Linked DNA regions of Homo sapiens. The protein of the gene in region 6 purifies or fractionates together with the protein of the main gene of each other region. This does not show direct contact. Each region holds a gene or a part of one and is shown on either strand. Other genes may lie near its edges. The genes, in order: CBY1, DCAF10, CEP120, GNB1L, EPDR1, PAGE1 and PDCD2L.

Region 1 (3,500 bases), on a different chromosome or scaffold from region 6:
GTGAGGAGCACTGTTATCAATCTGGAAAGGAAATATAAGCATAGCTTTACTCATTTATTTATTTATTTTTTTAATTTATTTTTGAGACAGAGTCTTGCTCTGTCACCCAGGCTGGAGTGCAGTGGCGCAATCTCGGCTCACTGCAACCTCTGCCTCCTGGGTTCAAGCAATTTTCCTGCCTCAGCCTCCCAACTAGCTGGGATTACAGGCACCCGCCACTATGCCCAGCTAATTTTTTGTATTTTTAGTAGAGACAGGGTTTCACCACGTTGGCCAGGCTGGTCTCAAACTCCTGACCTCTTGATTTGCCCGCCTCGGCCTCCCAAAGTGCTGGGATTACAGATATGAGCCACCGTGCCCAGCCATTTCTTTCTTTATTTTTTTTTTTTTAGAGACAGGGTAATGCTCTTTGACTCAGGCTGGAGTGCAGTGGCATGATCATAGCTCACTGGAGGCTCAGACTCATAGGTTCAAGTGATCCTCCCACCTAAGCCTACTGAATAGCTGAGACTACAGGCACGCACCACCATACCTGGCTAATTTTTGTATTTTTTGTAGAGACAGAGTTTTGCCATGTTGGCCAGGCTGGTCTTAAACTCCTGGGCTCAAGTGATCTGCCTACCTCAGCCTCCTGAGTCACTGAGACTGTAGTTGTGTGCCACCATGCCAGGCTAACTTTTTTTTTTTGAGACATGGTCTCTCATTCTGTAGCCTAGACTGGAGAGCAGCAGTGGACCACAGCTCACTGCAGCCTCAACCTCCCTGGGCTCCAGCGACCCCCCAGCCTCAGCTTCCCAAGTAATTGGGACTACAGGCATGCGCCACTGTGTGCCACCCAAAAAATCTTAGCATACCGCGTAGCACAAAGGGAGCGTTCAGCACATGGGAGCTATTACCAGGCGTCTTAATCCATTTTGTGCTGCTGTTACAGATTACCACAGACTGGGTAATTTATAAAGAAAAGAAGTTTATTTGGCTCACAGTTCTGGAGACTGGGAAGTCCAAGAGCATGGTGCAAGTATCTGGTGAGGGTCATCCTGTGTGAGGCAGAAGGCTCACATGGTGAGCAAGTGCATGAGACAGACAGCATGGCAGCAGAACTCATCCTTTTGCCAGGAGCCCACGCCAGAGAAAACTAACCTACTCCATGACAATGGCATTAATCCATTCATGAGAGCAGAGCTCACATGGCCCAGTCACCCCTTATACTGTTAAACAATGGCAATTCAATTTCAACATGAGTTTTGGTGGGGACATTCAAACCATAGCACCAGGATCGTTAGTAGCCACATGATAAAATGTATGTCTTCAAGATTTGAAGACAATGGCATAAGGTCAGTGATCCAGCTGCTTGTACCCCTGACTTTTTCTGACCCTAGGAGAAGGGAGCACTGGCTTTGCTTTCATCAGGCCAAAGATGCCTTTCTTTGGGAATACGTTCAGTCCGAAGAAGACACCTCCTCGGAAGTCGGCATCTCTCTCCAACCTGCATTCTGTGAGTGTCGGTACTGGGGTCGGCCGGGTGTGCAGCATGAGTTGAGTGCTGAGCGTGTCTCTGAATGGAAAGTGTGGTCCTCCAGAGGCATCAGTGCAGGAGGGCATCCTTTCCGTCCATATCATTGCTATTGCGGAAAACATTTTTGAACTCTTGTTTGGGAATGATCGTCAGAGCTTGTTTATCCAAGAACCTAAGAAGACAATCTCATTATGATATTTGACCCCAAATATCCAAATTTTTTTTTTCTTTTTTGAGATGGAGTCTCACTCCCGTCCCACAGGCTAGGGTGCAGTGGCGCGATCTTGACTCACTGCAACCTCCACCTCCCGGGTTCAAGCGATTCTCCTTCCTCAGCCTCCTGAGTAGCTGGGATTACAACTGCCCGCCACCATGCCCGGCTAATTTTTGTACTTTTAGTAGAGACAGGGTTTCACCATGTTGGCCAGGCTGGTCTCGAACTGCTGATCTCAGGTGATCCACCCGCCTTGGCCTCCCCAAGTGCTAGGATTACAGGTGTGAGCCACTGTGCCCAGCCAGTATCATCCAATTTGACTTCTACTTTATTCTGTGACCTTTTCCTACAGAGCTAGCTATGCAGACTGGCCATGTCTTCACAGAAGGCGAGTGGGGTTGAACAACAAGGCTGTGGGGGCTGAGCATTCACTACAGGTTTCAGGTCTTAAGAGTCTGTTGTCTCCTGTTCCCAGTGAAAATCATGGTGGGGGCAGCCCCACTGTGGCCAGAGCTGGGCATTCTGTGGAGCAGGCCAGGCAGAGGCTTAGGATCTCAGTTTCTGGTGCCCCTAGGCCTGAGGCTCCCTTTCCTCTCTGCCATGTGTGAGAGATGCAGATACACCTGGCGGTCCCTCTAGGACATCCTCTGTCCTAATCCCACACAGCGTAAGAGCAGCAGTGTGCTTACATGACGTCTGTCTCTGACCGTGACTTGAAGTCGGTCCTCCCCTACATTGTTTTCCACATGCTGACAGGTACTTGTAAGCCTTGGTACTTGTAAGGCCTCCACAGCGCTCCATATGGTCACTGGTGGATTTTATTAGTTCCCCGTTATTACAGGATAACCACCCAGATCTTGGGAGCAGCACAAATGACCCTTGGTGGCCTCACTCCAGCTCTCCTTCCTGCCCTTGCCCTCTGCACACCCTGTGCTGCAGCCGCCCAAGCCCCGTGTGAACCTCCTCTGCGCACGCTACTCCTTCTGCCTAGAATGTTTAATTCTAGAATCTAGAATAGATTAATTAAAGAGCTATTGATTGATACCTTTCTATGTGCCAGGCACTCTCCTAAGCACTGGGCATGCAGAAGTGGATGAAGGAGGGGAGAGAAAAACATCAAATCCCTGCTTTCATGGGGCAGATACTTTAACGGAAGGCTACAGAAAATAAGCAAATTTATATCAGATGGTGATATGTGCCAGACAGCAAAACAAAGCATAGGCCTGGGATGGGGTGTGGCTGAGCACTGGGGACTGAGCTTTCATTTTCAACAGGGTGGTCAGGAAGGCCTAACTGAGAAAGGGACATTTGAGCACTTACCTGAAGGTCTCCCTGTGTTGAGCCGCTATTGAGGGCAGAGCTGGTCATACGCATCCCTGGATACCCAGTACCGAGTCCCGAATCGGGGTGGGTGCTCAGTGAGTTGTAGAAATGAATATCTAGGCCAGGCGCAGTGGCTCATGCCTGTAATCCCAGCACTTTAGGAGGCTGAGGTGGGCGCATCACTTGAGGTCAGGAGTTTGAGACCAGCCTGGCCAATGTGGCGAAACTCTGACTCTACTTTAAAAAATACAAAAATTAGGCCGGGCACGGTGGCTCACGTCTATAATCCCAGCACTTTGGGAGGCTGAGGTGGGCGGATCACAAGGTCAGGAGTTCGAGACCAGCCTGGCCAATATGGTGAAACCCTGTCTCTACTAAAAAATACAAAAATTAGCCAGGTGTGGTGGCGTGCGCCTGTAGTCCCAGCTACTCGGGAAGCTGAGGCAG
Region 2 (3,500 bases), on a different chromosome or scaffold from region 6:
CTTGCCAGTCAGAATAGATGCAGATGGCTGTGCTGGAACAGGGTCCTGGAATCGCCATATTGTGTAAGGGGGACTTTTGCTGCTGAATCATGGGAAGGTTTTGTGGGAGGTATCTCTAGAAGAGGGGCCTGGGTAGTCAGAGGGTGTCAGAGGGTAACTCAGGGCAGTGCCTATTTACGAATTGGTATGGAAGAAGTTCAATCTTTTAACAGTACTTCAGCTGAACCAGTACATATTGGCTAAATATTAGTCCTAGTAATAGGTCTATTTCAGGTTTTCTATTTCTTCCTTGGCCAGTTTTGCTAAGGTGTATTTTTTTAGTAAACTGGCTATTTCATCAAAGTTTTCAAGTATATAGGGATAAAGCTCATCTATCATCTTCTTCTATATTGTTGTCTCCTTTTTATTGCTGATATTAGTTATTTATGTCTTTTTTCTCTTGATGAATCTTGCCAGAGAATTGCCTATTCAATTAGCTTTTTTCAAAGAGCAGGCTTTTAAAAATCCTCTATTATATTTTCATTTTTGACATCATCAATTTTATGCTTTTACACTTATCATTTCCATACATCTACTTTCATCGGGTTTATCCTTTTACTTTTTTCCAGTTTTTTGAGTAAGATGCTTAGTTCATCAATTTTCAACCTGTCTTCAGTATGATTTCTTCTTTGATCCATAAATTATTTAAAAGTGAGTTTATAAGTCTCTAAACATGAGAATTTTTAATTAATAACTAAATGATACTAAGAACAGGGAAAATGGTTTGTGTGATAATAGTTCTTTGGTACCAGCTGAAACCTACTTTGTAGTTCAGTACATGCTCAATTTTTGTACTGGTTCTAAGTTTGCTTCAGAGGATGTTTTCACTAGTTGTTGGTAGCAGAAATCTAAATATGTGTAATACATCAAGCTTATTAATAATATTTAAATCTTCCACAGCCTTATCCATTTTTGTTTGTTGTTGTTGTTATTTTTCTTTTTTGAGACAGAATCTCACTCTGTCACCCAGGCTGGCCCACTGCCACCTCTGCCTCCCAGGTTCAAGCGATTCTCCTGCCTCAGTAGCTGGGATTACAGGCGTGTGCCACTAGGCCCTGCTAATTTTTGTGTTTTATTTATTTTTGTTGTTGCTGTTGTTATTGTTTTGAGACAGAGTCTGACTCTGTGGCCCAGGCTGGAGTACAGTGGCACAACCTCGGCTCACGGCAACCTCTACCTCCTGGGTTCAAGTGATTCTCCTGCCTCAGCCTCCCAAGTAGCTGGGATTACAGGTGCCAGCCACCACGCCTGGCTAATTTTTGTATTTTTAGTAGAGATGGGGTTTCTGCGTGCTGGCCAGGCTGGTCTCAAACTCCTGACCTCAGGTGATCCACCCACCTCGGCCTTCCGAAGTGCTGGGATTACAGGTGTGAGCCACCACACGTGGCCTAATTTTTGTATTTTTAGTAGAGATGGAGTTTCACCATGTTGGCCAGGCTGGTCTCCTGACCGCAAGTGATCTGCCCACCTCAGCCTCCCAAAGTGCTGGGATTACAGGCGTGAGCCACCATGCCCGGCCCATTTTTGTCTATCTTATCTAGATAAGTAAATGAGAGAATGCTGTTAATATTTTCCACTGAGATGGAGATTTCTCACTTCTTTCTTGTAATTCTGTCCACTTTTACTTTTTATAGTTTTATGCTATGTTTTTAGGCGCATACAAGCTTTTATATTTTAGTGAAATTAATCTTTTGTTATAGTACCTTTTTATCAGTAATGCTTTTTGTCTTAAACTTTATTTTGTTTGCTATTAATGTAGCCACAACTGTTTTGTCTTTGACGTATAATTGTTTGTTTTTTCTCATCCTTTTACTTTCAACTTTTCTAGGTTTGTATGTTTTAACTGTGTCCCTTACAAAGAAAATACAGTTCTGTTTTATTTTTAATCTAATCTAACACTGTCTATTTTTAACTGGACAGTTTAGCCCATATACGTTTATCACAGTTATTAATATTTGGATTAAAGCTTAGGTTATCTGCCTACTAGTTTTATGCTTTGTGAAATAACAAAAAATATTTTTCCTGAAATTAAGGAAATTTATTTTGTAAGCTAGTTTTCATCATGAACTATACAACTTGGTCTCCTTCCTGTATAATTTTCTCCAACTTTTTAGTTGCAGTATATGACTAGTTTTGTGCTTCCTAATTTACCTGTTCTTTTAAATAATTATCTTTTTTCCTTCCCTTCTCTGCTTCTATGGGATTGATCATGTTTTATTAGTTTTTTACCCTCTACTAATTTGGAAGTTACATTTATATTTCTATTCAAATTTTATTTCTAAATTTTAGTAAACAAATTCATTTAGTAGGTATGCTTGTCTTTGTCTAAAGATAACCAATAGTTTTTGCCTTCCACTCAAAGAGTATGGGTAGCTAGAAATCTCCAAGAATAGCCCCTCTCTTTTTACATATGACCTCTAAAAAGAATATTTCGAAAATGATGGCCACACACAGTGGCTCATGCCTGTAATCCTTGTATTTTGGGAGCTAAGGCAGGAGGATCACTTGAGCCCAGGAGTTCAAGACCAGCCTGGGCAGCATAGCGAGACCCCGTCTCTACAAAAAATAAAAAATTAGGTGGGCATGGTGGCTCATGCCTATAGTCCTAGCTGCTCAGGAGTCTGAGGCAGGAGGATCACTTAAGCCTGGGAGATCCAGTCTGCAGTGAGCTGTGACTGTACCACTGCACTACAGCCTGGGTGACAATGCGAGACCCTGTCTCAAAAACAACAACAAAAACAAATATACACAGAAATGATCATGGTGTGTTTACTATATTATCATTTCACCATAGCTAGCAAAGCAGGCATATTTTAATTGTTTTTCAAACTTCAACTCTTTAAATATCAATTTCTTTATAAGGAGACATTTTGTTGGAATGTTGCACAACAGAGGCATAACTGGCATTTTAGGTGGGACAACTAGTCCACTGTGCACACTGACCTGTGTACTGCAGGAGGTTTAGAAACTCTGGTCCTTGCTGACTACATGCTAGTAGATAGTTCTCTTCCCCCATAGTGACAACCAAAATTGCCCCACGCTTTATTCCTAAACATTCCCTTTGAGATCAGTACCATTCCAAATGAGAACTACTCTTTTAATGCATGAAAACAAAGAACAAAAATTGCAAAATAAATATATGTAGAATTGAGGGAAGAAAAAGTGAGAAACAGTTTAGTTTCACAGGAGAAATAACAAAAATATTTTTCCTTAAATTCAGGAAACTCTTTTTTTATAAGCCAGTTTTCATCATTAACTATACTACTTGGTCTCCTTCCTGTATAATTTTCCCCAAAATTTTTAGTTGCAATATATGACTAGGTACAATTAACAAAATATATCATCACTTTTTGGTTGCTTTTCCTAAAGCCAGTTTCCTTCTTGAGGCTAGGACAGAACACTGAATTTGTTCACCATCTTTAAAAAAAATGTTTTTGTTCATAATCCTAACATGGTCTCCT
Region 3 (3,500 bases), on a different chromosome or scaffold from region 6:
TACCTTTGTCCAACTGCCTACAGTATTCAGTACAGTCACATGCTGTGCAGGTTCGCAGTCTAGAAGCAATAGGCTATTCCACCCAGCTTAGGTGCACAGTAGGCTATACCATCTAAGTTTGTTTAAGTACATTCTACAATGTTCACACAACAATAGAATTATCTAATAATGCACTTCTCATAATGTATCCCTATCTTTAATTCACGACTATACCTGTTTTTTTTTTTTTTTGAGACAGGGTCTTGGTCTGCCACTCAGGCTGCTGTGCAATGGCATAATCACAACTCACTACAGCCTCAACCTCCTGGGCTCAAGTGATCCTCCCGTTTTAGCCCCCTAAGTAGCTGGGACTGCAGGTGCTGGCTAATTTTTGTATTTTTTGTAGAGACAGGGTTTCACCATTTTGCTCAGGCTAGTCTAAAACTCCTGGGCTCAAAGCAATCTGCTCAAGTTGGCCTCCCAAAGTGCTGGGATTACAGGTGTAAGTCACCATGCCAGGCCTACTATTATATTTTTTGTACCACTTTCTATGCAATAAAAACCTTCAAATGCTGTAATTCCCACAAATGGTTAGATTTAAGTTACCCTTCATTCTTTTTAAAATAATGTATAAATTTGAATTGTGATACTCTGAGAAAGTAAAAGGTGTTTCGCAGATCTCAGATTTTTTCATGAATCCATTTCAGATAGTCAGATTAACATCTCTAGTTATAGGTTTAAAAAAACAGAAAAAGCAAATTTTTTCATTCAGTGAATCAACAATAAAAAGTAAATATTTAGTTCTTAGCTTTTTATCTTCCCACATTATATCAGGAAAAGGCAAGACCACTTTTCAAAGGCCCCTCATTACATATAGTTTGTTTTAACAAAGTTAAAATATCTAAATTCAGGTAAATAAGATAGGAAAATCAAAAAAGAGCCTTTATAATAAACCATGCAAAACCCTGTAGCAGATGCACAAATGTCATACACATAATTAGTAAATTTGTTTCTTGATCCTCAAATGCATAAACTGCTATGGATTTAAACCTATAAGAATTCCTTTTTAATAAAATACAAATTTTCAAGAATTGACTTAAATTAATTAATATCATACATACACTGTATGCATTACCTTAAGAAGGTGTCTTGCAGCTGATGAGGCATAGTTGCAAAATCAAATGCACAGTAAGACTGGGGAAGAAAAACTTCCATGTTTTTCCGAACTTCTACAGGAGGATTAGTCATAATAGGAGCTGCACTTCCAAAGAATGGATATGAGTACCTAGAATTTAAAAAAAAAAAAAAAAAAAAAAGCCTTAATGATATGGTTTACAGATGACATTCAGTCTGTTTTTTAGAAAAAAGTATAATATGAATATTATGAGCAAATACAACTTTTTAATAGAAACATGGTAGACATAGCAATCTGTCATCTGTGTAAGAAGTTCCTTGACGGCACATGTCCTACCTTTTTTATCTCTGCACTCCCAGGGACACAGGCAGTTTCTGCCATATATAAATATTCAAGAAATGCTTCCTAAATTTATTTGTAAACCTGGTTTATTTTATACAATAGTATCCTGATTTTTTATGGGATAAAAAGCCCTTAGTCAACTCCAAAAGGATGCATTCATGGTAATCTGGTAATTATGGTAATCTTGCAAGGATGCAAACAATTCGAATGTATTATGGATGAATCAAGAGAGTGACATAACAACACTGTTTCTCCCTTTCATCACAAAGCCATGCTAGATTAAATGGAAGAATGCCTGACTACTGCTGAACTTAATTTGTATTTAAAGCCAAATATAAAGATATTATAATGTTCATTTAAATTTAATCCTGTATCTTGTTATTCATATATGAGAACTAAAATTTAAACACTATTAGTAAAAACTGCTTTCCAACAAGAAGAATTCTATGTAGTCACCCAATTCCTATATAATTATATATCCATTTAAATCATGTCATTTCCGAGGAAAGTTAAATGCCCTAGAGTTTCAGCTCCCTATGCTTACCACCACACTACAGGATTTAGTGATTAAAAGAAAAATAAATAAAGGAAGTCATGCAGATAAGAAACTTTTCAAATACCAGTGTTACCTAACCAATTCCATGACACAGCTGCAAACTACAATTTCATACCAATACAGAGCATGGTATGAAAATTTATCAACAGAAAAAGTTAAGTGGCCAGCATTTTTAAAGTGCCTTAAAATGATTCAAAGACCGAACTATTAGTCCGTATCAAATGAATTCTATGAAGAGTGTTAAGTGGACTGTAACAATTTATTTCCTCAACTTTTGCAAATGCTAATGCTTGTTCCCAAAAAATTTATGAGGAGATGCTAACTACCCCAAACTAAATACATTATTGTATTATATTTAATTTATATCTCGGGCACAAAAGACTATAAAAATGTAACATCATTAAAAACAAATTATTGTGTAAAACTACTTAACTGACATATATATTATATAAAATTCTTAATATAGAACAATGTAGACACATTCCACTTACAGCTGATTAAGTATGGTGTTTAGATTCATAGCTATGAAATGGAGGTATTAGGAATATGAGCTCCCATTATAATACAGTTTTATAGAAAAATCAGATAATACACTACCTTTTTGACCAGTAATACTTTGACTAGTATTATTATTACTTTTTTTTGACCATTATTATTATTTTGACCAGTAATACTTTTTCCAGAAAAAAAGCACTTTTCAAGTTTAAGAGGCACTGTACTTTATATGGCATATTATGTATGTTTATCAAAATACATACATGTATTATATTACTTAGAATAAGTTATTATAAATGCCTACAATTATTATATCAGAATAATAAGACAGTTACCTCTCCTACTACTATGCTACCCTTGTTTGAATTCAAAATCATTAGGATATAGCCTTACCCCCTTTTAGTCCACTGATTTAACAAATGTTATAACTTCTTTGGTGACATTTCTCTCTGCAATTCCCCAAACACAGGAAAGTCCTTTCTCTTCAGAAAATAATACTTTGAAACAAAATCAAATCACACCTTAATATACAGTTGATTGGAAAACCAATCTCCAAGGCATGTATACTCCTTAAGTCTATTGAAAAGCAAAAATGATGTGATGTTGCTGGTACAGCAATCTTCTGTCCTGAAGCTACTTCTGAAGCATTGGATGTAGTCACTAGCTGGGCCAGTGAAGCAGGTACAGAAGAACTGGCTGAAATGAACATAAAATAAAACAAAATAATCACACTTGCTAACAGTTTCTCTTAAATTGTACAGATAGTTTAAGGCTATCATCTCATTTACCTTTAAGCAGGAATTGGGCTATTTTGTCTCATGAACATATGAATTGAGGTATAAGTATCTTAAAAGTAACTCACACAAAAATAACCCAGGTTTTAATTTCCATTCTAGAATTGTGTGAAAAAAGAGCTTACTCTCAATACATATAGAAAACGTACAGAACCAATAGAGAAATATACATGACTGCAGCCTAGAAGGCACTAACTTA
Region 4 (3,076 bases), on a different chromosome or scaffold from region 6:
TGCATCTTTTCCAAGCTGGATGTCTGGAGCTGAGACCGTTTCTTCTTCTGTTGTGGGGGTTTCAAGGCTGGTCAGACGCATGGTGATTCATCACGACCCAGGTTCTGTTGACACAAAGGCCGACCTGTCCAGAGCCACATGGCTCTGCTGTGGACACCACGGAGCAGCTCAAGAGAGGAACAGGACCAGGAGGGCTGCACTGCTCTTGGCCGGCTTGGACCCCAGCACCGGTTCTGCTGCTCTCCCAGGCAGCTCAGCCAGGTGAATGAAAGTCCTGGGCCTGCCCTCCACAGGACGTCTATAAGGCCTCAGAAGCTGGATCTGCCTGGCAAGGGGGGCCCTATCTGCCTAGCCACCCAGATGCGGGCACGTGGCCCCGTTGTGCACTGGAGGGGTGAGGGCTGTGTTAGGCATGCAGGACTCACGCTGTCCCGACTCCATCCCTGCACACTGAGATTCAGAACAAGATGTGCCTGGACACTGCTCAACGCCACATGGCCTGGGGCAGGGAGCTCAAGGCCAGGCTAGGGGGCAGCCGCCTGCCATCCACCCTGCTTGTGCCTTTGACTGAAAGCACGAGGGCCAGGGGCCAACTCAGGGTCTGTACACCCTGCCCACAGCTCTTCATGGCCTCTATGTAAGACATCAGCAGGCAGTGCCACTCGCCAACCTCATGCTGGCATGCACACCTGGGCCCTCATGTGGGATACCCACCTCGTGGCTGTGGGACGTAGGGAGTTTTGTAACTACAGTGATGATGCCAAAGATGACAGGGACATAAACAGGGGAAGGGGTAGAGGCCCAGAACCCTCAGGGTGGGAGCTGAGGCGGGGCAGATGTGCCTTTGGCAAGGCTGTCAAGGGCATGCAGGGAAACTGCAAAGCCAATTCCCACTCCACCTACCCTGCCGCTGTCATGGGGATGTCAGAACCTGACACCTTCCCTCACTGTGACAGCCTGTGATGAGCACCCAGGGCACAGCTCCCTCAGCACCTGCAGTCACTGCAGCCTAAACCCAGGACCCTTCCCCTCCCTGACACCTCAGTGATATGAAAATACCTCCCGGAGTGCCCTACGCATCCTGGCGGCTATAGGACACTCGAGGAAAAGCAGCAGGGCCCCCCTCTCCAAAGGTCCTGGGCACCTGGTGGCCACCCTTGTCCAACGGAGCCAGGCCAGTACCCGAGCCAGGTGGTCTCCAAGCTTGGGCCAGGGGCCGCTTTCCCGGCCAGCACTGACATTCCCGTTTGATGGAACGGTCCCCATGGTACCTCTGACCAACAGAGAAGTGTGGTCACAGGACTCCTCAAGGACTCCGGGCCCCCCAGCAACCATGTTCCTCACAGTGGGGTTGGGGAGGCACGGCCTTGGGACCCCCTGCAGTGGGTGCACAGGTCTCACTGACAAATCCAACACCCCCATCCCCAGGCCTTGGAAGCCCTCCTCGGCTGTACCCCACGGCGGCTGGCCATGTCCACTTCACTCAGTGCAGCCACCCTCAGGCTGTAATCCAGCCCCCACCCCCAGCCCGGCACTGGAGCCTTCCTGGCCCCAAGCTGCAGCGCCCAGTCCAGCCCTCCGTTTGGCAGGTCTGTTCCGGGAACTCCCCTGATCCACCCCTGCTCCGGCCACCTGGATCCCACACCCTTCCGATCCGTCCCACACATGTTCAGATTTCTGCCTGGAAACCTGGAAATGCCATGTGGTCCTGCAGGAGGCTGGTGCCACTCTCAGGGTCACCCTCTGTATCTCATCCTGGGGGTCTGCTGGACTCGAGTCTAGTTCTAGGACTAGAAGCCCAGGTGGGGGTCCCAAGGAGCATCGGCAGGGCCTTGCAGGGCAACTGCCTCAAGGGAGGCCACCCCGGGCCTTCAGCTAGAGGGGCTCTTCCGGCAATCCGGGCAGACACAGGCGTGTGTGGTCCCAGCTTCTCTGGATCTGCCCATGGGCCCCACTCCAATATTCAGGGTCATGGTTCTTTCCCAATCAACACCCGCTTTTAGGAGGAGACGACCGGCCAGGCTGGGCCCGGCTGCATGCAGTGTGAGGCTCTGGCTGCTAAGTCCTGCTCTTGCTGTGTTGTGCCCTGGGGGCCACCCTGTGTGCAGCCGCAGCTGTGACTGTGGCCTTGGCCACTGTGAGGCGGTGCTTGTCACACTCCCTTGCTGCTCTCGTGCCTTCTGCCCAGCACTCACCTGGAGGTGCACCCTGTGCGCCTTCCCCACTGCACCCTCTGCGGGCAGGCGTGCCCTCCCGGATCCCACATCTGGCCTGGCCCTGTGCGCTGCAAGCCCCCCTTGCCGTCCCTCACAGGCACCTTTCTCTGCTTCACTCTTTAGGGAGTTCAGTTACTTCCTGATCCTGATCCTGGCCTCAACCTGTGTGTTGGGAGCTCCTGGCCTCCTCGGGGTGAGGGGTCATGTGGACATCGACGCAGCTATGGTTGGGGCCTATCATCTCCTGAGGCCTGGCCCAGGAAACCCACACTCGGGGTGGCCCATTCAACAGCAGGTGTGAGGGTGGGGCTGAGCATCCTGCCTGGTGGGGGTCTGAGGGCACTGATGCTAAGTGGGGGACCAGGGCCTCCTCAGGGAGCTCCCACCTCAAGCCTGCAACTTGGCAATGGAAATTTATTATAAAATACCCTCAGCTGGCAACACAGCAGGCCCAAGCCAACGTCTCCTGCAGGCCTCGGACGGCCAGGGCTCTGGCTGGCCCCCAGAGTCACCGTCCTGTGATGAGGCACTCCACAAAAGGAAATACCAACCTCATGAAGACAGCGGGGACTCCATGGTCCTTGGGCCATGACTTGCTGGTCCTCAGAGGCCCTTGAGGTTTCAGGCCAAGGCTGGGGCCTGATGCCCACCTCCCTGCCCGCCCTCCTCGTCTCCCGGGAAGGGAGTGGGTGAGTCATGCGCGTGGGTAGAGTGACCAGAGGCTGATCCGCTGATCCTTGGAGCCCGCGGCCAGCAAGCCATCGGCGGTGAAGGCCACGCACTGGACAGCGGCGCTGTGGAAGGCCAGCACGGCCAGTGGCTGCATCGTCCGCCAGTGGAACACGCGGATGCGGTGGTCC
Region 5 (3,500 bases), on a different chromosome or scaffold from region 6:
AATTCCTTGACTGAGTGCTGTGAGAGAAAATGCACCACACAAGAGTCAAGTCCTCCTGTGTCTCTGTGGGTAAACAAAAGTTCACAAACCAGCTCTTCAGCCGGAGCCATATCTTCCCCATGTTTGTATGCTAAGCACAGGGTCTGGCATATACTAGGTCCTTGGTCAAAATTTGCCCAGTGAATATACACTTTTGACCTCAATTTTTTTTTTTTTTTTTTGATGGTGGACGGGATCTCACCCAGGCTGTATGTAGTGCGGTGGCATGATCATGGCTCACTGAAGCTTTGAACTCCCAGGCTCAAGTGATCCTCTTACTTCAACCTCCCAAGTAGCTGGGACTACAGCTGTGCACTGCCATGTCTGGCTAATTTTTAAAATTTTTTTTCTAGAGACAGGGGTCTCACTATGTTGCCCAGGCCGGTCTCAAACTCCTGGGCTCAAAACGTACTCCATCCTCGGCCTCCCAAAGTGCTGGGATTACAGGGATGAGCCATCATGCTCGGTCTGACCTGTGAATTCTAATTATTTCATATGCAGGTTGTTTCATGTGCCTAGTGTTTATAAACGTTAAGTGATTGCCTAGCTAGTAATTTCTTTCTATTTTAAAAGTAATATCTATCAAAGGTGTTTGTGCTGTTAAAAGGCACGAGGATGGTAACATGAAGTCCCAAACTACTTCTTTCCATCTGTGTTTCAGATTATTTGAATATATTTTGCTGTATAAGGATGGAGTGATGTTTCAGATTGACCAAGCCACCAAGCAGTGCTCAAAGATGACCCTGACACAGCCCTGGGATCCTCTTGACATTCCTCAAAACTCCACCTTTGAAGACCAGTACTCCATCGGGGGGCCTCAGGAGCAGATCACCGTCCAGGAGTGGTCGGACAGAAAGTCAGCTAGATCCTGTAAGGGTTCAAAGAATCTAAGCATTGTATTCAGCATGCATGATGGGGAAAAAGGTTTAAGTCCTTTAAGGAAGGTAGTTTTTAGGGAAACATCCGCTTAATCAAAAATTTTTTAAAGCCTCCACTTAGGTCTGCAGGTTACTTTGCTCACTATGTGGCAACGGGATCTAAGCTTCATATTTGAAACACCTCAGCCTTCTAGTGCCACCTGCACCTCTCTGCCACTTTGGCTCCTGTGAACTTAGCCTTGATTTTGACATTTTATGGTCGTCCCGAGGTCTGTGACATGGAAGGCATCTGTCTAAGGCACACATTTGAATTGGGTGCCTCCTTTTCTTTCCCCCACTTCCTAAAGTTGCAGGGGTCAAATCTACTCCCATCATGCTGAGTGTGCAAACCAGCCTACTTTTATGTGAAGCCATTCTCTGCCCTGCTGCTGATATACGCCTATCCCAAGACAGTTTTTACCACACAGGCATTCATGCTGTGGAACACAGTATGGTGATTTCTCAAAAAATTAAAGATAAGACTGCCATATGACCCAGCAACTCCACTTCTGTATATATATATATGCCCCAAAGAATTGAACGCAGAGACTCAAACAGATATTTGTACACCCATGTCCACAGCAGCATTATTCACAATTGCCAAAAGGTGGAAACCCAAATGTTCATCAACAGATAAATGGATAAACAAAATCTGGTATAGTCATACAACAGAATATTATTCAGCCTTAAAAAGGAAGGAAACACCAGCACATGCTACAGCCTGAGTAAACCTTGAGGACATAATGTTAAGAGAAACAATGCAGGCAGAAAATGACAAATACAGTACAATCCCACTTACATGAGGTATGTAGAGTCGTCAAATTCATAGAGACAGAAAATCGAATGATGAGTTCCAGGAGCTGGGAGAGGAGGAATGGGAAGTTCGTGTTTAATGGAGACAGAGTTTCAGTTTGGGAAGATGAAAAAAGTTCTGGAGATGGATGGTGCTGATGGTCAACAAATGTGAATGTACTCAAGGCCACCAAACACTTAAAAATGGTAAAATGGTAAATTTTATGTTATGTACATTTTACCACCATAAGAAAAAATATGAACTTCTTGCCTGTCTTCTTTATTTAAAAGTCAACTTTTTTCCTCTTATAGATGAAACCTGGATTGGCATCTATACAGTCAAGGATTGCTATCCTGTCCAGGAAACCTTTACCATAAACTACAGTGTGATATTGTCTACGCGGTTTTTTGACATCCAGCTGGGTATTAAAGACCCCTCGGTGTTTACCCCTCCAAGCACGTGCCAGATGGCCCAACTGGAGAAGATGAGCGAAGACTGCTCCTGGTGAGCCTGTGCATAGGGAAGCGGCAGCATCGGATGTCAGCCCCCTGCGGCCCCAGCTGGAGATGGATATGAGACTAGTCAAGATGTGAATGCTAATTGGAGAGAAATATAATTTTAGGAAGATGCACATTGATGTGGGGTTTTGATGTGTCTGATTTTGACTACTCAAGCTCTGTTTACAGAAGAAAATTGAATGGCGAGGGTGTGGCCATATGAACTGACTAGATGGCTAATATGGACACTTTGGGTATTTCTAATGCCTGTTCAGGGCTGGTTTTCTGCATGCACGGGTATACACATAATGCAGTGCCATGCACATAGGGAAGGGTCAGTAAGAGAAGTTTGCCTTGGCAGCAAGTATTTATTGTTGACATTATTCAGAATTAGTGATAATAAAAAGCAGAGTGATTTTGGTCAATTTTATTATTAATTCTTAAATTCCCTGCAGAGAATGCCCCCTTTATTGCTGCACCAGGGTTGGCATTGCTCCCACTGAGCCCTACTCCACCCTGTCCCTGCACTCCCTTGGTTGCCAAAAAAATGATAACTTAAATCCCTTCCAGACTTAAGAATTTTATGGCATGGCCCAATTGATATAAACATTTAGAAGGAAATGAAAAGCTAAAATAGGAAGTAATTATTCCTCTAAAGAAACATTTTGAGCAAGGCAGTTTAGAGAATCCTAATGTCTACACTGGCATAGCACGAGCCATGTAAGCTTCTTTTTTTTCTATGCAAGAGTATTGATGTATGTGCTGAATCTTCACAGACTTGTCAATACACAGGCAGTATTCTAAAATAGCACTGAACAGGGAGTCAGGAGACTATTGTCTCCTAAACCCAGGACTAGAGTTCCCTCGTACTGTCACTCCTTTGGTCATTAAATGCACTGGGCTTGCCCGCACTTTGGCCTTCCTAGAACACTGCTTCATAACCTCTCTGTCTGACTTCTGCATCTCCTTCCAGGTCAGCTCATTCACAAGAGTTGCTCCCAAGCCTGGATGAGTTGCACCTTGCATCTTGAGCATGCATTTCTCACAATAATTATTAAGCTGTGTGATAATTTCTGCTTTCAGGACACTCATCCATTATCTTGGCTGTGAGCTCCTTGGGTACGGGTACCTTGTATGTTTACTTTTATATCCCTAGCACAAAGCAAGTGCCTGGCACATAGTCAGTGCCCTAAGTATTCGTAGAGTGAAGAATGCCAGCCTCTCTTGTCCCTGGTTTCCTTATGTGTTGAATGT
Region 6 (3,019 bases):
GAATATAAGTATTATACATGTCCTGTGGTTTATCCTTAGATTGTCATTTAGTAGAAAGGTCTCAAACTGGGCTTAGTGCTGTGAAATCATAGTCCCAGCTACTTGGGAGGCTGAGGTGAGAGGATCGCTTGAGCCTAGGGTTCAAGACCAGCCTGGGAAACATAGGGAGACCTCATCGCAAATAAATAAATAAATAAATAATAAATGTTTCGTTATATAGGAAAACAAACATGTAAAGTTTGTTCTTAGCTGCTGGTAATGTTGCAACCATAACTCCTTACTGAACTATAACACTTAAAATTAGTTACCATGGTAAATTTTATGTTATGTGTATTTTTTAACACAATTAAAAAAAAACTTCTGTCTTCCTAAAGTTCAGTGTAGTTGTCATATATTCTTACAAGTTTTTACTTTATATATTTTCAAGACATAACATTTGTAGAAAATTTGCAAGAATAGTACAATGAACTCATATACTTTTCACCTAGATTCACCAATTGTTAATAGCTTCTGCTCCATTGTTTTCATGTCTCTTCCCTCCCTCTCTTACCCTGCTGCCCACACACTCACACACACACTTACGGATATTATGTTTACTCTTATTAATGCTGCATTGTTCAGATAAGGTTTCAGCTATTATGGCCCTTTACCCTAAGTACTTGAAAGTGTTTATATATCCTCAGAACAAAGAAAAAGTCATTCCTTGGATAATCACTGCACAATGATCAAACTCAGGACATTTAACAATGAGAACCTGCAGTCATTTAATACACAGAGTATACTCAGATTTTGCCAGTTATCCAGATAATTTTCTTTTTTCTTTCTTATTTTTTTTTTTCAGACGGAGTCTCACTCTGTTGCCCAGGTTGGAGTGCAGTGGCAAGATCTCGGCTCTCTCTAAACTCTGCCTCCCAGGCTCAAGAGATTCTCATGCCTCAGCCTCCTGAGTAGTTGGGACTACAGGCAATGGCCACCGCACCTGCCTAATTTATTTTTTCTTTTGTATTTTTAGCAGAGCCTGGGTTTCACCATGTTGGCCAGGCTGGTCTCTAACTCCTGACCTCAGATGATCCGCCCACCTCGGTCTCCCAAAGTGCTGGGATTCCAGGTGTGAGCCACCACGCCCGGCTGGCTGATACTGACATTTTTCAAGAGGATAGACCAGTTGGTTTGCGGAACGTTTAGCACTTTGGGCTTTTTTGTGTAGTTTCTAAAGACTGTTTTTTCACTCACCATTTATTGGTGCCTACTCATGCCATATAACTTGCTAGGTGCTAGGAGTCTAAATGCTAATGAGAGACAGGATGTCAGCCTTGAGTCATTTAATATAATAAGGACAATCAGAAATACAATAACAGATAAGTGCAAAGGAGGCAACAAAGTTGTCTGAGGGCAGTCTTCAGAAAGGAAGAGGGTAATATTTGGAAAACCCTGTTTTCCTGTCTTCTGCCAACAGACTCCTGAAATAATGTTCTTGGGATTCTTATCAACACATTTATTATTACAGTACCTAAAGCTTTTATTTAATAAGACCAAGAGCATGAATATTATTTTCTTATTCATATTTCATGTGTTGCTGCTTAAAATGATAATTTTGTTTTATCTTTAAGGGCAGGAGCCTGAAGCTGATAGCCAGGAACTGGTTCAGCCAAAGACTGGGTGTGAGCTTGGAGATGGTCCTGATACCAAGAGGGTGTGCCTGCGAAATGAAGAGCAGATGAAACTGCCCGCAGAAGGTAGGTAGTCCATTAAGCATGCAAATTGTAGGGTGTCTGTTTCCACAGTATTATAATTTTCTTTTTTTTCTGAGATGGAGTCTCACTCTGTCACCCAGGCTGGAGTGCAGTGGCTCAATCTTGGCTCACTGCAACATCCACCTGCTGGGTTTAAGTGATTCTCCTGCCTCAGCCTCCCGAGCAGCTAGGATTACAGGCGTATGCCACCACAGGCACCTAATTTTTGTAATTTTAGTAGAGACGGGGTTTTGTCATGTTGCACAGGCAGGTGTCGAACTCCTGACCTCAGATGATCCACCCAGCTTAGCCTCCCAAAGTCCTGAGGTTACAGCCCTGCCACAGTGCCTGACAAATAAATGTTTCTTTTTTTTTTTTTTTTGTATTTTAGTAGAGACGGGATTTCACCACATTAGCCAGGCTGGTCTTGAACTCCCGACCTCAAGTGATCTGCCCACCTTGGCATCCCAAAATGTTGGCATTAAAGGTGTGAGCCACCATGCCTGGCCCAGATAATTTCCTTTATAGAATTTCTTTTTCTGATCCAGAGTCCAGTTCAAGATCACGTCTTACATGTGCTTGTCATGTGTTTCTAGTTTCCTTTAATCTGGAATGTTTCCTTAATTTTTCTTTGTCATTCAGGATACGGACATTTTTGAAGAGGATAGACAAGTTGGTGTGCAGAATGTTCAGGATTTGGGGATTTTTCATGTATTTTTTAAAGAACTTTTTTCACTCAGCGTTTATTGGTGGCTACTCATGCCATGTAGGAGTCTAAGTGCCAGGAGTGTAAGTGCTGTGAGAGACAGGGTTTCAGTCTTGAGTCATTTAATATGATAAGGACAATCAGAAGTAGAATAATAAAGAAGTGCAAAGGCAGCAACAAAGTTGTCTGAGGGCAGTCTTCGGAAAGGAAGAGGGTAATATTTGGAAAACCCTGTTTTCCTGTTTTCTGCCAACAGACTCCTGAAATCATGTTCTTGGGATTCTTATCAACACATTTATTATTACACTAGTGAAAGCTTTTATTTAATAACACTGAGAGCATGAATATTATTTTCTTGTTCATATTTCATGTTTTACTGCTTAAATTGATTATATATATACACATATATATGTGTATATATACACATATATATGTGTATATATACACATATATACACATATATACACATATATATGTGTGTATATACACATATATACACATATATACACATATATATGTGTGTATATACACACATATATATACACATATATATGTGTGTATATACACACATATATATACA
Region 7 (3,500 bases), on a different chromosome or scaffold from region 6:
GAGGTGCTGGGATTACAGGCGTGAGCCACCACACCTGGCCACTCCAGATTTCTTTAACCACCACTCTACTCTCTACTTCTTTGAGGTTGTTTTAGATTCCACATATAAGTGAATACATGCAGCATTTGTCTTTGTGTCTGGCTTATTTCCCTTAGCAAAATGTTCTCCAGTTCCATCCATGTTGTCACAAATGACAGAATTTCCTTTTTTTTTTTAAGGGTGAAAAATATTCCATTGTATATATAGTAGTTTTTTTAAACTTACACTGAAGGTCTTGAGACACACAGTTTACTGATTTTCCTGTTTGGGAATATATATGGGTGTGTACATATATGTGGTTGTATGTGATAATGTATACGTGTCTTTATAGTAAATATACTTTATGAGAGCTATATATGTATTAACACATTTCATAAGATGAAATCTGAATTTATTGAAAAGGCAGGCAAGTTGGTAGCTGCAGAACACAATTTAGCCTCCCTTTGACTGTAAATGTGTCTTTATATATACACTGAGTTTGTTTGTTTGTTTGTTTGTTTTTTGAGATGGGGTTGCATTCTGGTCACCCAGGCTGGAGTGCAGTGGCATGATCTCTGCCTCTTGGGCCCAAGCCATTCTCCCACGTCAGCCTCCTGAGTAGATGGGATTACAGGCACGTGCCACCATGCCCAGCTGATTTTCATATTTTTTGTATAGATGGGATTTTGTCATGTTGCCCAGGCTGTTCTTGAACTCCTGGACTCAAACAGTCCGCCCACCTCAACCTCCCAAAATGCTGGGATTACAGGCGTGAGACACTGGGCCCGGCCTGCACCCAGTTCTTGATGTTTGCTAGGCATAGTATTAGCAGTACTTAAATAAAAAGTTGAAGACAGTGGTGTTTGCCTATATTTGTCAGGGTTCAGGTGCAGATAATTAGAAAAGTGCTGTTGCTTTTTCTTTTTTTTTTTGAGACCGAGTGTCGCTCTGTCACCCAGGCTGGAGTGCAGTGGTGTGATCTTGGCTCACTGCAACCTCCGCCTCCCGGGTTCAAGCGATTCTCCTGCCTCAGCCTCCTGAGTAGCTGGATTACGGGCACGTGCCACCATGCCTGGCTTTTAAGCTGAGACAGACTTAACACAGGAGTGAGGTTTTTAGTAAGTGGATAGGCTGAAGGAGGAGGCTCCAGGAATGCCCTCCAGAATCACACCTCAGAACTGGCCGTGAAGGAGCTGCTATGCCACCTCTCCTGCTGTCAGGAAGCTTAGGTGTGATCTGGTGAACTAGAGGCTGTCTTTGCCACCGAACCGTTGGCTCCAAAGCCTTGTTCTGTCTGTGTCTACACAATGGCTACCTTTTGCTATGTGGTCTTTCTTTCTACTTCACTCTGTCTCAAGTTCATGTTTCTCTCTAGTAGACCTGATTAGCAGACCCCTAATCATATCTGAAACCCTAGCTGCTAAGGGGTCTGGGAAAGGTAGTTCTTTCTTTTCAGTTCCTGCAATACATGAAGCACAACAGAAAGATATTGGAACGGATGGTTGAATAACCCCTGTACTATATCTGTCACACTCACCCCAAAAAGGAAAGACAAGTATTTTAAGTCACCTCCAACGTGCTTTTGAGTACATAGGGTCTAGAAAGTTTGATTGGAGTGTACCAGAGGGGAAGGGGATGGTGTGAAGGCTCCCTCTGGAAGGCGCGGCGGTGGGTGGCTGGAGCCGAAGGATTAGAATAAACCTCCCAAATGTGCTCGGACCTCATTCACTGAGTATTTTTCCAGAAACAGGGAAACAGCCTTGCAGCTGAGGACTGGTGTGAAGGTGCTGATGACTGGGGAAGTGATACTGAGGAGGGGCCTTCACCACAGTTTACCTTGGATTTTGGGAATGATGCCAGCAGTGCCAAAGACGTAGACTGGACTGCTCGGCTCCAAGACCTCCGCCTGCAGGATGCTGTCCTGGGTGCTGCCCATCCTGTGCCTCCTGGGCTGCCGCTCTTCCTGCCCTACTACATCTGTGTTGCAGATGAGGATGATTACAGGGACTTTGTCAACCTGGATCATGCCCACAGCCTTCTGAGGGACTATCAGCAGAGAGAAGGCATTGCCATGGATCAGTTGCTTTCCCAAAGGTGAGGATGTGTGCTGCTGAGGTTGAGAGGTGACTGGATTGGGAAGCAGCCACAAGAGTTACCCTTCAGTTTCACCACAGGACCTGGGGAAACTTTCAGGCAGAACTTGTATGTAGGACCTTTTTGCTTCACTTCCTTATCAGCCAACTTGAGTTAGCTTGAAAACCCTGCTCTATTTATAATTGCCGTTAAGAAAGTGAAGATGAACAAACAGAAGTTAGAGATGGCAAGTATTTATAGAAGACGCGTTCACTGACTCTTAAATTTTCTTTTATATTTCTAATATGTCTTTATAGCAGAGACAGGCAAGTTAGAAAACTACCATTTGATCTGGGATAATAAGATTGGGGTGAAAAAATGGAAAAAGGAAAAGAAAAACGCCATTTGTTTATTGACTCTTGGCTGTGGCTCCAGAACTGGCCCAGGACCTCAGAGATGCTTTCAGATCCTCAATTCTGTAAAATGAGAGTGATGGTGATATCTCTGTTCTCTGTTTCATCCCATGATTTTTTGAGAGTTAAGCGAGAGGGTAGATCTTGAAAGGCTTTATAAACCAAAGCTCTCTAAAGAGGTAAGAATGATCATTTTTGCTTATTGATTGACTGAGAGAGACAGGGTCTCACTCTGTCACCCACGCTGGAGTGAATTGGTGTGATCAAAGCTCATGCAGCCTTGAACTCCTGGGCTCAGGCAATCTATCTTAGTTTCCCAAGTAGCTGGGAGTACAGGTGCACACCACCATGTCTGACCAATTAAAATTTTTTGAGTTTCGCTGTTGTTACCCAGGCTGGAGTGCAATGGCACGATCTCGGCTCACTGCAACCTCCACCTCTCAGGTTTAAGCAGTTCTCCTACCTCAGCCTCCCAAGTAGCTGGGATTATAGCCATGTGCCACCATGCCCAGCTAATTTTTGTATTTTTAGTAGAGATGGGGTTTCACTATGTTGGTCAGGCTGGTCTCGAACTCCTGACCTCAGGTGATCCACCCACCTCAGCCTCCCAAAGTGCTGGGATTACAGGCGTGAGCCATTGTGCCTGGCCTAAAAATTTGTTTTAGCCACTGCACCCAGCATTTTTTACTATTAGAATAAAAAAATTACAATAGAATATTTGGAGAAATGGCCTGGTTCTTTACCAGAACTGTTTCATTTGTAGGCTTTTTCAGAATAATGATGAAGGGGAATGCATGAAGACATGTTGGTGTTTGAAAATAATCCTTAATAGAATTGATGGTTATAAGGACTTTTTATTTTTTATTTATTTATTTATTTATTTATTTATTTATTTTTGTGTGTGTGTGATATGGGCTCTCTTGCCAGGCTGGAGTGCAGTGGTGCGATCTCGGCTCACTGCAACCTCCCCTTCCTGGGTTCAAGCAATTTTCTTGC

Evidence for each region.
Region 1: the proteins of PAGE1 (region 6) and CBY1 purify together in Homo sapiens (affinity purification with mass spectrometry; one large-scale study listed by BioGRID and IntAct). This does not show direct contact.
Region 2: the proteins of PAGE1 (region 6) and DCAF10 purify together in Homo sapiens (co-immunoprecipitation; 2 studies listed by BioGRID and IntAct, with this or other methods). This does not show direct contact.
Region 3: the proteins of PAGE1 (region 6) and CEP120 purify together in Homo sapiens (affinity purification with mass spectrometry; one large-scale study listed by BioGRID and IntAct). This does not show direct contact.
Region 4: the proteins of PAGE1 (region 6) and GNB1L purify together in Homo sapiens (affinity purification with mass spectrometry; one large-scale study listed by BioGRID and IntAct). This does not show direct contact.
Region 5: the proteins of PAGE1 (region 6) and EPDR1 purify together in Homo sapiens (co-immunoprecipitation; one large-scale study listed by IntAct). This does not show direct contact.
Region 7: the proteins of PAGE1 (region 6) and PDCD2L purify together in Homo sapiens (affinity purification with mass spectrometry; one large-scale study listed by BioGRID and IntAct). This does not show direct contact.

Annotation. Positions count from the first base shown.
Region 1 is NC_000022.11:38,666,638-38,670,137, forward strand, and holds part of CBY1 (protein chibby homolog 1), read left to right. Parts: intron 1-1,379; 5' UTR 1,380-1,417; coding exon 1,418-1,495; intron 1,496-3,500. UniProt on the Homo sapiens protein: Inhibits the Wnt/Wingless pathway by binding to CTNNB1/beta-catenin and inhibiting beta-catenin-mediated transcriptional activation through competition with TCF/LEF transcription factors.
Region 2 is NC_000009.12:37,842,297-37,845,796, reverse strand, and holds part of DCAF10 (DDB1- and CUL4-associated factor 10), read right to left. Parts: intron 1-3,500. UniProt on the Homo sapiens protein: May function as a substrate receptor for CUL4-DDB1 E3 ubiquitin-protein ligase complex.
Region 3 is NC_000005.10:123,385,404-123,388,903, forward strand, and holds part of CEP120 (centrosomal protein of 120 kDa), read right to left. Parts: intron 3,204-3,500; coding exon 3,029-3,203; exon of another isoform or gene 2,901-3,028; intron 1,265-2,900; coding exon 1,115-1,264; intron 1-1,114. UniProt on the Homo sapiens protein: Plays a role in the microtubule-dependent coupling of the nucleus and the centrosome.
Region 4 is NC_000022.11:19,785,799-19,788,874, forward strand, and holds part of GNB1L (guanine nucleotide-binding protein subunit beta-like protein 1), read right to left. Parts: coding exon 2,911-3,076; 3' UTR 1-2,910. UniProt on the Homo sapiens protein: Acts as a critical regulator of DNA damage response (DDR) signaling via specifically regulating phosphatidylinositol 3-kinase-related protein kinase (PIKK) family proteins.
Region 5 is NC_000007.14:37,948,140-37,951,639, forward strand, and holds part of EPDR1 (mammalian ependymin-related protein 1 isoform 1 precursor), read left to right. Parts: intron 1-700; coding exon 701-909; intron 910-2,060; coding exon 2,061-2,257; 3' UTR 2,258-3,500. UniProt on the Homo sapiens protein: Binds anionic lipids and gangliosides at acidic pH.
Region 6 is NC_000023.11:49,689,966-49,692,984, reverse strand, and holds part of PAGE1 (P antigen family member 1), read left to right. Parts: intron 1-1,610; coding exon 1,611-1,736; intron 1,737-3,019.
Region 7 is NC_000019.10:34,407,399-34,410,898, forward strand, and holds part of PDCD2L (programmed cell death protein 2-like), read left to right. Parts: intron 1-1,762; coding exon 1,763-2,112; intron 2,113-3,500. UniProt on the Homo sapiens protein: Over-expression suppresses AP1, CREB, NFAT, and NF-kB transcriptional activation, and delays cell cycle progression at S phase.